Regions from separate parts of the Homo sapiens genome. Here regions 1, 2 and 4 are each reported to be linked to region 3. Evidence: microRNA targets listed by miRTarBase, many of them from high-throughput screens and not tested one by one. Region 3 holds a microRNA gene; each other region holds the end of a gene's coding sequence.
What was found. The annotated mature microRNA hsa-miR-4794 reads UCUGGCUAUCUCACGAGACUGU and lies in region 3 at 2,196-2,217, shown strand. An mRNA with a match to its seed (bases 2 to 7 or 8) in the 3' UTR can be bound and repressed. Matches are read on the target gene's strand: a 7mer-m8 pairs with bases 2 to 8, a 7mer-A1 pairs with bases 2 to 7 and ends in A, and an 8mer does both.

Region 1: miRTarBase lists ZSWIM7 as a target of hsa-miR-4794. Seed matches in the 3' UTR shown: 7mer-m8 at 1,104-1,110 and 7mer-A1 at 1,754-1,760.
Region 2: the mRNA of TRMT10B is a reported target of hsa-miR-4794. Seed matches in the 3' UTR shown: 7mer-m8 at 475-481 and 7mer-A1 at 1,103-1,109.
Region 4: miRTarBase lists PACS2 as a target of hsa-miR-4794. Seed matches in the 3' UTR shown: 7mer-A1 at 2,498-2,504 and 7mer-A1 at 1,157-1,163.

Annotation. Positions count from the first base shown.
Region 1 is chr17:15,975,534-15,978,614 of GRCh38, reverse strand. It overlaps ZSWIM7 (zinc finger SWIM-type containing 7), which reads left to right. Exons shown (of 5, transcript NM_001042697.2): 5 at 452-2,055. The coding sequence ends at 568. ADORA2B (adenosine A2b receptor) reads right to left here. Exons shown (of 2, transcript NM_000676.4): 2 at 2,869-3,081. Among named protein-coding and RNA genes, the nearest start is that of ZSWIM7, 23 kb to the left of the region's middle. RefSeq lists an enhancer at 1-62.
Region 2 is chr9:37,777,383-37,780,463 of GRCh38, forward strand. TRMT10B (tRNA methyltransferase 10B) reads left to right here. Exons shown (of 9, transcript NM_144964.4): 9 at 219-1,590. The coding sequence ends at 325. It overlaps EXOSC3 (exosome component 3), which reads right to left. Exons shown (of 4, transcript NM_016042.4): 4 at 2,332-3,081. Among named protein-coding and RNA genes, the nearest start is that of EXOSC3, 6.1 kb to the right of the region's middle.
Region 3 is chr1:64,577,660-64,580,740 of GRCh38, forward strand. It overlaps MIR4794 (microRNA 4794), which reads left to right and starts at 2,188; the gene lies at 2,188-2,264. The region is part of intron 2 of CACHD1 (cache domain containing 1); the gene reads left to right. It overlaps LOC124904195 (a long non-coding RNA gene), which reads left to right. Exons shown (of 2, transcript XR_007066150.1): 2 at 1-2,185.
Region 4 is chr14:105,394,317-105,397,397 of GRCh38, reverse strand. It overlaps PACS2 (phosphofurin acidic cluster sorting protein 2), which reads right to left. Exons shown (of 25, transcript NM_001100913.3): 25 at 1-2,844. The coding sequence ends at 2,726. Among named protein-coding and RNA genes, the nearest start is that of TEX22, 2.7 kb to the left of the region's middle.

The DNA of each region.
Region 1 (3,081 bases), not on the chromosome of region 3:
TTTTATTTATTTATTTTTTGAGACAGTCTGGCTCTGTCACCCAGGCTGTAGTGCAGTGGCGTGATCTCGGCTCACTGCAACCTCCACCTCCTGGGTTCAAGCGATTCTCATGGCTCAGCCTCCTGAGTAGCTGGAATTACAGGCATGTACCGCCACACCCAGCTAATTTTTGTATTTTTAGTGGAGACAGGGTTTTGCCATATCAGCCAGACTGGTCTCGAACTCCTGATCTCAAGTGATCCATCCGCCTCAGCCTCCCAAAGTGCTGGGATGACAGGTGTGAGCCACCATGCCCGGCCCATCTGCACTTTTTAGACAATCAGTTAGAGACCCCGTAATCTGTATGCTCTAGTCTTCTCCTGCCAAATAAGATGGTAATGAGAAATCTTGGTTAGACTGGCCAGCCCTGGCCCTGCCTGTTTCTAATAGGTGTGTGTGTTTTATATTCCAGTGCAAGCATCTCTTGGCAGTTTACCTGAGTCAGGTTATGAGGACCTGTCAGCAGCTAAGTGTCTCTGACAAGCAGTTGACTGACATATTATTGATGGAGAAGAAACAAGAAGCATAAAAGGTACAGATTGAGCATCATTCTTTCAAAATAGAATCCTGTCAAGAAATGCATTGAAAGCGTCATGATTCACATGGAAAAGAGGTGAAATGGATCTTCAGACACTTCATGTTACTGTCCCTTTTCCCTCCAGGACTGCAGGAGGTGCTGTGGGTTGGAGCCGTGGGCTGTGGAGGGTTTGTGTATGATGAGAAGCCCTGTACAGTCTTGTCAAGAAATACCCTGAGCCAGTCTCTGAGACGCTTCGGTAAAAAATGTCCCTGGATGGAATCAAGATTTTAAATTCAAATAAAGCCTAATATCATGTTGTGTCCACATTATTTAGTCTTTTTTTTTTTCTTTTGAGATGGAGTCTCACTTTGTCGCCCAGGCTGGGGTGCAGTGGCGTGATCTCAGCTCACTGCAAGCTCCGCCTCCCGGGTTCACGCCATTCTCCTGCCTCAGCCTCCCGAGTAGCTGGGACTACAGGTACCCGCCACCATGCCCGGCTAAATTTTTGTATTTTTTTTTTAGTAGAGATGGGGTTTCACCGTGTTAGCCAGGATGGTCTCCATCTCCTGACCTAGTGGTCTGCCCGCCTCGACCTCCCAAAGTGCTGGAATTACATGCATGAGCCACTGCGCCTGACCCTATTTAGTCTTAAGTAACTAACTGAATTACTAGTAATTTTTAAAAGGTTGGAATGGTGGGCCAAACAGTAAGATGAAGTTTCGACGAGTAGGTCAGTTCTTTTCCTTGGGTCCAGGAAACTATTGAGCAGCAACAGAAGATCAGAGCAGAGATGTGGCTAAACAGTAGCAGGTATGAAAAGACTTAGAGGTTCTGGTTTCTGTAAGCTTCAAATATCTGTGATGCTTGTGCCAAAACAGCTTAAGTAGACTGTATTGTTTGAGAGTTAGTATCGAGAACAAGGGAAGAACTGGTTTCACTCTGCACTTCTGATCTTTACAACAGGGCAATTGAAGGAACAGACTAAAAATCGTGTCCTGGAAGGAAACTACAGGTACTACCAGGGATTTTCAGTCTGAAGAAGAAAAGACAAAATAGATGACAGAAGGAGTATTAGAAGGGAGAGCGATGAGACTCAGTTGGACACCGAGAGAGCAAAGAAGCAATAATACGTGAAGATGAAAATGAAATCAATTTCAGCATAAGAAGACAAGAACTTATGGTAAAGCTGCCCACAGCCAGAAGAGGATCCTAGAAGGACAGGAATTCCCTGTCTGCAGCATTTCATAAGCATGTAATATTGTTGCAGGGATACTGCAGAAGGAGTTGAAGCAGTGGACAGACAGATGATATAGGTGATTTTACAGCCTAAGAAAGCCCTGTGCTTGTGCCCCCAAAACATGAGGTGCTAGTGAATGAATGCTGGGGGAAAGCCCAGGGCCTAGGTGTTGCAATGTTCTGTGGTTGGCAGATGCTTTTTGTTTTGTTAAAAAGTGCAACAGATAAAATTTATCAATACTTTTCTGCTACTCAGGAAACTTGGACTCAGCATAACTTACTTTTTTTCCAGCAGCCTTCAGGGTAAAGTTTAGAAGGTAGATGCAACAAGCCAATGCAGCACCCTAAGCTTGTCTTTTTAAGTTTTATTTTTATTTAACCTAATATACACAGAGTTAAATAATTTTACTTCATAAAATTTTCACACTTTGAGTTCCAAGAACTTAACCAAACTTGAAATTTGGAGAGAAGCAAAATTCCCTATCTATCTATCTAGCTCTAGAAGGCAGAATTTGGTAGAGGAGGGATCCCATTTCACCAGTTTCTTCCCCACGGGTAGTTTTCTGTATATGGAAAAGAATGGAGCTTAAAATTATGTGATGAAAATTTGACTTATGAGACTATCAATCAATCATTTCCCTAAATTAATACAGCAGTTTCTTGATTGAATACTTTATTTATATATATATATATATATATATATATATATATATATATATATTTTTTTTTTTTTTTTTTTTTTTTTTTTTTTTCTGAGACAGAGTCTCACTCTGTCACCCAGGCTGGAGTACAGTGATGCCATCTGGGCTCACTGCAGCCTCCGCCTCCCAAGTTCACATGATTCTCCTGCCTCAGTCTCCTGAGTAGCTGGCACATGCCACATACCCAGCTAATTTTTGTATTTTTTAGTAGGGACGGGGTTTCACTATATTGGACAGGCTGGTTTTGAACTCCTGACCTCGTGATCCGCCTGCCTTGGCCTCCCAAAGTGCTGGAATTACAGGTGTGAGCCACCATGCCCGGCCGAATAATTATACTTTTAATTTTTGAGGTCACCTTCCTGGCAACAAGTATACATTTTTAGTACAGTCAACTTTTATTTTTCCATTGCCTCTAAGTTAAAAAGTATTTGCATTATAATAGTTCACACTGTTTCACAGTAAAATAGTTTCAGTAATTTTCCACCATAAACAAGGCAGACTTTTAAAAACAAAAGAGTCTGTTAGAATCCATTCAAGCTGTTGGCATAATCCACACAGTAAAAGCAGCTGAATAGATCATAAATA
Region 2 (3,081 bases), not on the chromosome of region 3:
TGTTGCACCCTATCCATTCATAGGCCTGTATCTTTCAGGGTAGGCTGAGGTCCTTGAGAGCAAGCAGAGCCTGTGTCCTTGCCTCTCCCCGCAAGACCTTAGTACCACATATGGTGCAGAATAGGTTTGTTGAACGAAATATTACAGAACATCCTTTTCATTTACTCGTTCTTTTTTTCCCTCTGTGGTCACTGTGTTTTCTGTTTACTCTCTAACAGTGTTTGATATCCTGTCCACTTACTTAGAGACTCACAACTGGCCTGAAGCATTGAAGAAAGGAGTTTCTTCAGGAAAAGGCTATATTCTTCGGAACTCAGTGGAATGATGGGCCTAAGATTGCAGCTGCGTGGCCAGGTGCTCACGCCGTAATGCCAACACTTTGGTAGACCGAAGTGGGCAGATCACCTGAGGTCAGGAGTTCACGACCAGCCTGGCCAACATGGTGAAACCCTTCTCTACTGAAAATACAAAAATTAGCCAGGTGTGGTGGCGCATACCTGTAGTCCCAGCTACTTGGGAGGCTGAGGCAGGAGAATCACTTGAACTCGGGAGGCGAAGGTTGCAGTGAGCCGAGATTTCACCAGTGCACTCCAGCCTGGGTGACAGAGCAAGACTCCATCTCAAAAAAAAAATAAATAAAAAAAAATGCAGCTGCAGGAGTGAGGCGCTTGGAGGTACCTTGACCCAAAGAGCAGGGCAGAGGGTGGCAGTGGCACATAGGCAAGTGTCTTTGCATGACATCTTCTCAGAGCTTCACAATAATGTCAGGGACCACATTTAATGCTTTTTAATCTCCCATAGTGCCTGGCTCACAGGAAGTGCTCAGATATGTTAAGTAATAAAAAGTTAATGTGGTGGGTGCAGTGGCTCACGCCTGTAATCCCAGCACTTTGGGAGGCTGAGGTGAGTGGATTACAAGGTCAGGAGTTCCAGACCAGCCTGGCTAATATGGTGAAACCTCGTCTCTACTAAAAATACAAAAATTAGCTGGGCATGGTGGTGCGTGCCTGTAGTCTCAGCTACTCAGGAGGCTGAGGCAGGAGAATCGCCTGAACCCGGGCGGCGGAGGTTGTAGTGAGCCAAGATCCAGCCTGGGCGACAGAGCCAGACTCTTGTCTCGAGGGGAAAAAAAAAAAAAATTATGTAACAAGGAATTAGCCTCAAAACCACATGGCTTTGGACGTGCTAATTCAACTTTTGTACATCTATTTGTGAGAGACCTCTTGAAATTGTTTAAATGGTTACATCAAGAGTTTAATATTCACTAAACTGGCATCATAAAATTGTATGACTTTCTCCAGCCTTGTCTGATCATGCTCGTTGTTGCCCAGCTCAGTAATAAGCTTTGCAGGATCCAGCCTGTTCTGACCTATCCCTACTGAGTCCCCATAGCATTTTGTTCCCTCCTGTGGCTCTTACCTTGTTCTCCCTTGCAGAGTATGGGCATGGAGGGCTTCTCTTCCTAATCCTTCCTAATGGTAGGATCCTAACAGGACAAATCTGTGTACCTATCTTTCTATCCTCCCTGAGCCTGTACCAACTAGATTCTTCATATGTATTTGTAACAGATTAAATTGGAAAGCAAACACAGTATTGATTAAGTCTGTCTTGAAAATAGCTAGAAAGTGTTAGACACATGAACACGTTAGATAACCTACTTATTACACAAATCTCATGTTCCTTATGTCCCAGTTGGACATATTTGCTTCAGTTACTCTGACAGTTTGGGTTAACTTGCTAGTTAAGCAGCTAGCAAATTTGGGACATGTATTCAATATCTCAAAAGAACCAACAGATTACTTCTCTGCTGTGTCCCCTCCCCTTCACAATTTAATTCCTAAGGAACTGTTCACCTAATCAGTACTTTTCTATTTAAAAACTGGCTAGACAGTTCATAATAAAAGATATGGGACCAACCTAAGTACCCATCAACCAATGAATGGATAAAGTGTGGTATATATATCCCATGGAATATTAGCCATAAAAAATGTCTTTTGCAGCAACTTGGATAGTATTGGAAGCTATTATTCTTAGTGAAGTAACTCAGGAATGGAAAACCAAATACCAAATGTTCCCACTTTAAGTGGGAGCTAAGCTACAGGTAAGCACACAGAGTGGTATAACAGATACTGGAGACCCGGAACAGGGAAGGGGGAAGGATAAACTACATACTGGGTACAATATATAGTACTCAGGTGACTGGTACACCAAAATCTCAGACTTCACCACTATACAATTCATCCGTGTAATCCAAAACCACTTGTACCCCTAAAAGCTATTGAACTAAAAACCATCCAGTCCTTAGAAAACATTAGAAACACACGAAGCTCCTTGGTCTTTATCAACAAATAGAGTTCTATAATCTCTTTGATCCAAAAAGGACTTTCTATGGATAGGCTTCAGGGGATCTGTATCTCACATATTCTCAGAGGTCTAGAAACCAAGAATCACTGATGTGGATCACCTGGCAGTCTCTTTACCTCTAAAGGTTTTGGTTAATATACTAAATAGCATAGAAGAGTTTTCTATGCTTAGCTCCTAGGAAATGATTTTAGCAAAATAAGACTTGGCCAGATTTGGATTCAGAAATCCTCATAGTGTTATTTATATAATGATAAAACTCAAAAATATCCTGTAACATGAAATATGTGACTAAAGTTGTGAAATGTATCATGCTGTTTGAAGTAGACAAAAGTATATTACAAAGTGGCATATAAGCTATAATAACTATAATTTCAATTTGATGAATATAGAGAATGTAGGCCAAGTTAAATTCTGTGCCTCAGTTTCAATTATGAGGATAAGTGTCTTCTGCAGTTAGAATAAAGGAGTTAATCCATGCAAAACACAATACTTGGTAAATGAAAAAGTATTTCGTTGTTATATACTCACCCGCTGAATAATGGGACTACAGGTGACATTTCTTTGCTGCTTTATACTTAGGTATTCCACATTTCCTCTGGTGAACCTGGCTTACTGTTATAATCACAAAATTATTTTACTGCTGACCTCCAGTTAATTATGGAAGCTGTAGCAATTACTAAGGGAGTTAACTCCAAATAAACCCTAATACTGTTTTTT
Region 3 (3,081 bases):
CATGTGAGAGGCCTAAAATTGTGACTTGTACATAGTTGGCACTCAGCAGATGTTGGCATTTTTCTTAGTAAGGCAAGATAGAATGTTGCTACATGAAAGACTGGGGAATTTCTGACTGACAGCTGTGAATCCAAGTAGACAGAGCATGGATTTGACACCTTTTGTGAAGTGCCATAGGTGTTTGGACTCTGTATTCTTGGTACTTTCTGTCTCTATTGATGAAGAATGCAGCTGAAGGCCCACCCTAACCAGGAAGGCAAAGGCAGACATTCTACCCCGATCCCCCAGTAAAACACACCTCTGCCAGGGCTGCTCTCCCATCAACCAGTCACCCTGCAATCCCAAGGAAGATTCAGTTCCACAGCCAGCCCAGAGTTGAGGACCTTTTAACATTCTGCTCTTTGCCTTGTTTGATTATGTTAACAGAAATTCTCAGCCTGTGTGATTTGTCATATTTTAATATTTCAAGCCACCATTGCAGCTTCTTTTAGGTTTGGTTTGTCTGAGGCACCGCAGCGAGTGCATGAGCACACAGACTTTGAATTTGTATAAGTGAATGGCTCTTCCACTTACTTTGTGGCTTTGGGCTCATCACTTAACTCATTGATATAAAATGAGAATACCCACACTGTAAGGTCCTGGTAGCTATTAAAATTTTCTGAAGAACCCTGAAATCTCTTTGCAACAGATTTACAACTCACAGGGTACAATCTTGATAATTTTGATGATTTAGATGCAGTGCCTACATTTAGGAGCTTTGTTTCACCTGCTTCAATATGTATATCCTAGGATGGAATTCAGCTGATCCTGCATTTTCCAGTTTTCTGTTGTTGCATAACAAACCACCCAAAACTTAGTGGCATAAACAAACATGCTTACAAATTCTGTGGGTCAGGATTTTGACCAGGCACAGCAAGGATGGCTTATCTCTGCTTCATGATGTCCATGGCTTCATCAAGGGGCTACTCTGGGGGCTGAAATTATCTGGAAGTTTCTTGGTTCATGCCACAACTTGGGCTGGGATGACTTGGAAGACATGCTAAGCTGGGGAGCTGCCAACTAAGCACTGACTGTGGCCTCTCCATGTGTCTTGGACTTCTTACAGCTGCGTAGCTGACAGCTACCAAGAGTAAGCGTTCCAAGAGACAGGCATGTCCTTTTATGACCTAGCTTTAGGAGTCACGTAGTATCACTTTCTCTGTACTCCACTAGTAGAAGCCATCATAAGCCTACCCAGATTTAAGCAGTGGGGACAGGGGGACATGTAGACCCCACCTGCCAAAGGGTAGACCTGTTAAAGAATTTGTAGGAAATTTCTATAAAACCACTACACTAGGATTATGGCACCACACTGGGATTATGTTTCCATCTGGGGATAAATTAGGGCCGCTGGCTTCTACCTATAGCAAAGCAGGCCATACAGACTCTTGCAGCTACTTAATCTGCCATTGTAAAATGAAAGCAGCCGTAAACAATATGTAAACAAATGATCATGTTCCAATAAATATTAACAGTAAAATTAGAATTTCATGTAACTACTAAATATTAAAAATATTCTCCTTTAAAAAACATTTAAAAGTGTAAGAATCATTCTTAGCTCATGGCCTATGTAGAAAGAGGCAGTGGACCAGATTGGAATATCTTGAGTTTAGCTAGATCTGACTCTTCAAAGTTAGAATCCTCCAAATGTGTAGAAGAAACCCTTGGGTATTTCTCAAGTGGAATTAAGAGTGTGTGTGTGAGAGAGAAGGACATATGACTACAAATTTTGTTTTTATTTTAAAGTGAATTTGTGAAGATATTTCAAAATTTAGTTCTTTTAATTACATCTTATGTTCATTATGTTACAAAACATTTATTCCCAAGGGCAATAAAGGACTATGCACTTAATACTCCTATGTGGGAAATTAATGATATTTACTTTATCAGAAGTCAGGACCTACAAAGAAAAGGTAGAACTTGCTTCTTGATGGAGCTTCCAGAAATACATATTGTTGTATATTTTAAAAATAAGTATGTTTTAAAAGAGTTGATTATTAGAACAGAAGATAAGGTTGATGACTCTCAGGAATGAATTTTTAAAATCTTTATCACTTCATTAAATATTTTTTCTATGTCTATAATGCCAGGCAGTGTGCTAGAGCCTGAAGATACAGTGGTGAACAAAAACATATATCGTATGTTATCTTTTAACATCTGGCTATCTCACGAGACTGTATGTCCTAACAGTGCTTGTAGTCTCATGAGATAGCCAGATGTTAAAAAAAAAAAACAGCATCAAATTTAATGTGTGTTATGAGATGGCTTATGCAGGGCATTATGAGAATATAAGGTTTTCAAGCTGGGCCTATTGCTCTGACACCCTCTACTGCCCACTGAATGTGAAAGTCTAGGAAAAGAGGGTTGTTAGATTAGTTGCAAGCTGCTGTTTAAAAACCACGTTAACACGTTTGATAATGAGTGAATAGTCCTCTCTCCATATCTAGGCCACGTGTGATGGCCTGTTTAATATTGCTTTGGGGAAGGAAAAACAAAGAATGAAAAAAATTGCAGTTGTTGAAATGTACAGGATTTTTTTTCCCTGATAAGTTATCATTTTGGATGGGTGGAGAATTCAAATAGAAGAACAGTTTGGAACCTATTGACTGAATTACAAATTGGGATAATTTACTGATTTTTCTCTCAATCAAAGTTTTTCTGGGTGACAAAATCATTTGTACAGCAAACCCTAGTAACGTGCAATTTATCCATGTAACAAATGTGCTCATGTACCCCCGAACCTAAAATAAAAATTGGAAAAGAAAAAATAAATTGGTCAGAATCATACCCAAGAATAGCCCTTAAATAAAACATCTGGTTAATAATTATTTGACTGCAATCAGAGGATACTGCTAAAGATTTTTAGAGGACCCCTGAAAGGGTTATATTAATATCCTTAATAAAATGTGAATTTTTTGCTTAAAAAGTGATTTTCCAACACCTGTTAAAAAAGCAATCAATCGAGGTTTCAAGGTTTCTCATCTGGGCCATTAGTGGCATTTGAACCAGATAATTCTTGGTTTTGGGGTGCTGTCCTGTGCA
Region 4 (3,081 bases), not on the chromosome of region 3:
CCAGTCCAGGGCCAGGTTCTCGGGGGGTGTGCACACCTCACACACACATCCCCCGCCCTTACCGCACTGGCTGTCAGATGGCTTTGGTTTCTAGTTGTCCTTGGTGGGACAGAGTGCTCCTCCATGCACCCTCAGAACAGCTCTGTGAGGTAGGCAGGGAAAATGCGACCATCCTGTGTAACCAGTGGGAAAACCGAGGCACAGAGGGCTGGCATGGCCCAGGTCTTGTCTGCCCAACCTCCCTGGTGCTGGGCATGGTGTGGGGGATGGACCGTGGGGCTCCTGGGTGCAGGGCAGACCCACAGCCCAGCAGCAGCAGGGGCACAGGGAGTGCCACCAGAACCCCCAGCTGCTGGATGGAGACTCTGCCCATGTTCTCCCCTTGCGTGGCTAAGGATGGAGCTGTGCAGCCAGATGGGAGGTACGGGGTAGGCAGGAGGGCTCCAGGAAAGGGGCTGCCCACAGCCAGGATGCACTAGGCAGCCTGTGGCCCCTTCCTCTAAAACCTGCTCTGAGGCCAGAAAGCCACAGCAAGGATGTTTCCACCTTCATCTCCCTACTGAGTGTGACCCTTGGGAAAGAAACAGGAAGAGCAGGCAGGACGCGGTGACTCACGCCTGTAATCCCAGCACTTTGGGAGGCCGAGGCGGGTGGATCACTTGAGGTCAGGAGTTCAAGACCAGCCTGGCCAACATGGCAAAACCCCATCTCTACTAAAAATACAAAAAAAATAGCCAGGTGTGGTGGCACACGCCTGTAATCCCAGCTACTCGGGAGGCTGAGGCAGGAGAACTGCTTGAACCTGGGAGACGGAGGCTGCAGTGAGCTGAGATCATGCCACTGCACTCCAGCCTGGGCAACAGAGCAAGACTCCATCTCAAAAAAAAAAAAAAAAAAAAAGAAAAGAAACTGGAGAGCAGAAAAACAGATGCTCTGCAGCCCAGCTTGGGGGCAGCTGAACGAGTCAGTCAGGGTCCCACCTGTTGCCGGGGTCAGAGGCCATCAGCCCGGGGCTCACACCCTCACCGCAGACACTTCTCGGGGCAGAGCCTGAAGCCAGGATTCAATGGGAGACCTTCCTACCCTCTCCCCCACCCTGGGGTGTGCCCCAGGCTCCTGGTCCCAGGTGAAGGAGGAGTCCCTGGTGTGGAGGGGCTCTGGCTGGGAGGGGCTGGGGCTCTGCCTCCTGCACACAGGCTACCTCTGAGGCCTGAACCCAGGGAGCTGAGGCTGCACACCAGGCCACATCCTGGCCCCTCACCACAACAAAATCACCCTGTTCAGCCACCTGGGGGGGGCGGCCAGGAAGAGCAGGGCGGTCACAAGTAAGAAATGTGGGCCATCTCTCAGGCCAGCAAGGGTGGAGACCCCTCCAGCCCCGGCTCGAGGCCCACCCTGCCCTGCGTTTGCTTTCTGAGCATGGCCTTTTGCAGTGCTCCATCTTACGAAACCAGGCCAAGAGCCCCCAGGGTCGATCAGGACCCCTGGGAGGGCCCCAGCTTCCCCAGCTCCTCCTATGGAGACCCCACAGTGCAGGCTTACTGGGGAGAAGCAGGACTGAGGGGGCAGGTGTGGTCAGGGAAGCCCTCTCCTGCTGTGTGGAGGGCATGGAACCCACACACAACATGGGACCCAACACGCTCTGAGGACTGTGGCCTGGAGAGCCTCCCAGGCCCTGCACGGGGTACCTGGCTGCACCCACGGCTCCAAAGTGCCGGCCCCGCTGGTCAGGCCATCCCGCTGGAATCTTCATTGGCTACAGCGTTGCAGCAGGTGACACAAACACATCTGGACGCCTGCCCCATATTCACCAAAACCTGAATCTCAACCCAGATATCCCCATGGCTGACCTCAGACATACCCACTGGGGTGGAGGAAGTGGCCCCCACCTCAGGCCAACCCCAGCAGCATCTCACTATGTACCAAGCTGGGCTCTGGAACATTTTCTGGGGCCACCTGGGCTGTGGAGGCCCCTGTGCTTGCTAAGTTTGGGGCAGGGACTACACGCAGAAGCCTCATGGTGTTTCAAGAACAGCCTGAGAGTGGGGAAGGTGTGAGGCGGGGTGGGGCAGGGGCTGGGGAAGTGGGGGCAGGCTCTGCTGGCTCTGCCCAGCCCCAGGGGGACTTCAGAAGAGCAACATGTTTGGCAGCTACATTAGAACATGTATTGAAAAGCATTAAAAATATCTGCTGCTATAAAACCTCCGCCGCAGGCAGGAGTTTATTGGGAACCACGAGTGTGCGGTGCTGGGGGCATCTCTTAGGCGGGCAGGACGGCCCCCCCAGGCTCAACTCAGGACAACCCCAACGGGACTGAGCGGCCCCATGGCCCTCGGCCTGTGGCCACTGAGCTCCGCCTTCCCCGGGCTCCCTGAGGAAGCAGAGTCCTGACTTCCAGGAAGGACAGGACACAGAGGCAAGAACTCAGCCTGTGAGGCTCTGGGTGGCTCCTGAGGCCAGAGGACGCCTTCCGCGATCCATGGCTCAGCATCGTCCTTCTGGCTTCCCAGCCCCGGGCCGAACGTTCGGGTTAATAAGCAGAGCAGTTATTCGGCTCCTGGCAGGAGCTCCCCCGTTAGTTTCCACGTTGTGAGCACATTCATACTTAAGACTGTTTCTCTTTGTGTTTTAAGCGTCTGTCTCTGTAGTAAACTGAAATGTTAACAGAAATGCAGCTGGGCCCCTCACAGCATGGGGCAGGAGGTGGGCCCCCTGGTGGGTGGGGCTAGAAGGTGGCCTTGGAGTGTCCGAAGATGCAGATGGGGAAGTGCTTCACGTGCGAGGACCACTGCGCGGCCAGCTGGAAGAACTTGACGTCGCTGCACTCCACGCCGTCGATGAGGACTGTGGGAGAGGGCTGCCTGACCGCCTGCCCCCCTGCCCGGCCTGCCCACCCTATCCACCTGCCTGCCTGGCCCACCAGGCTGGGTGGCAGCCGGGCGTACAGGATGAGAAGGAGCCCCATGCTGGAGGGCATCAACACTTTCCTCAGGGACTCGGGGGCTCCAGGGCCATGCTGGCTCCTGAGGGACGCCATTCCTGCCCCTGCCCTCCACACTCAGAGCCCTGGGGGGTGGGGAG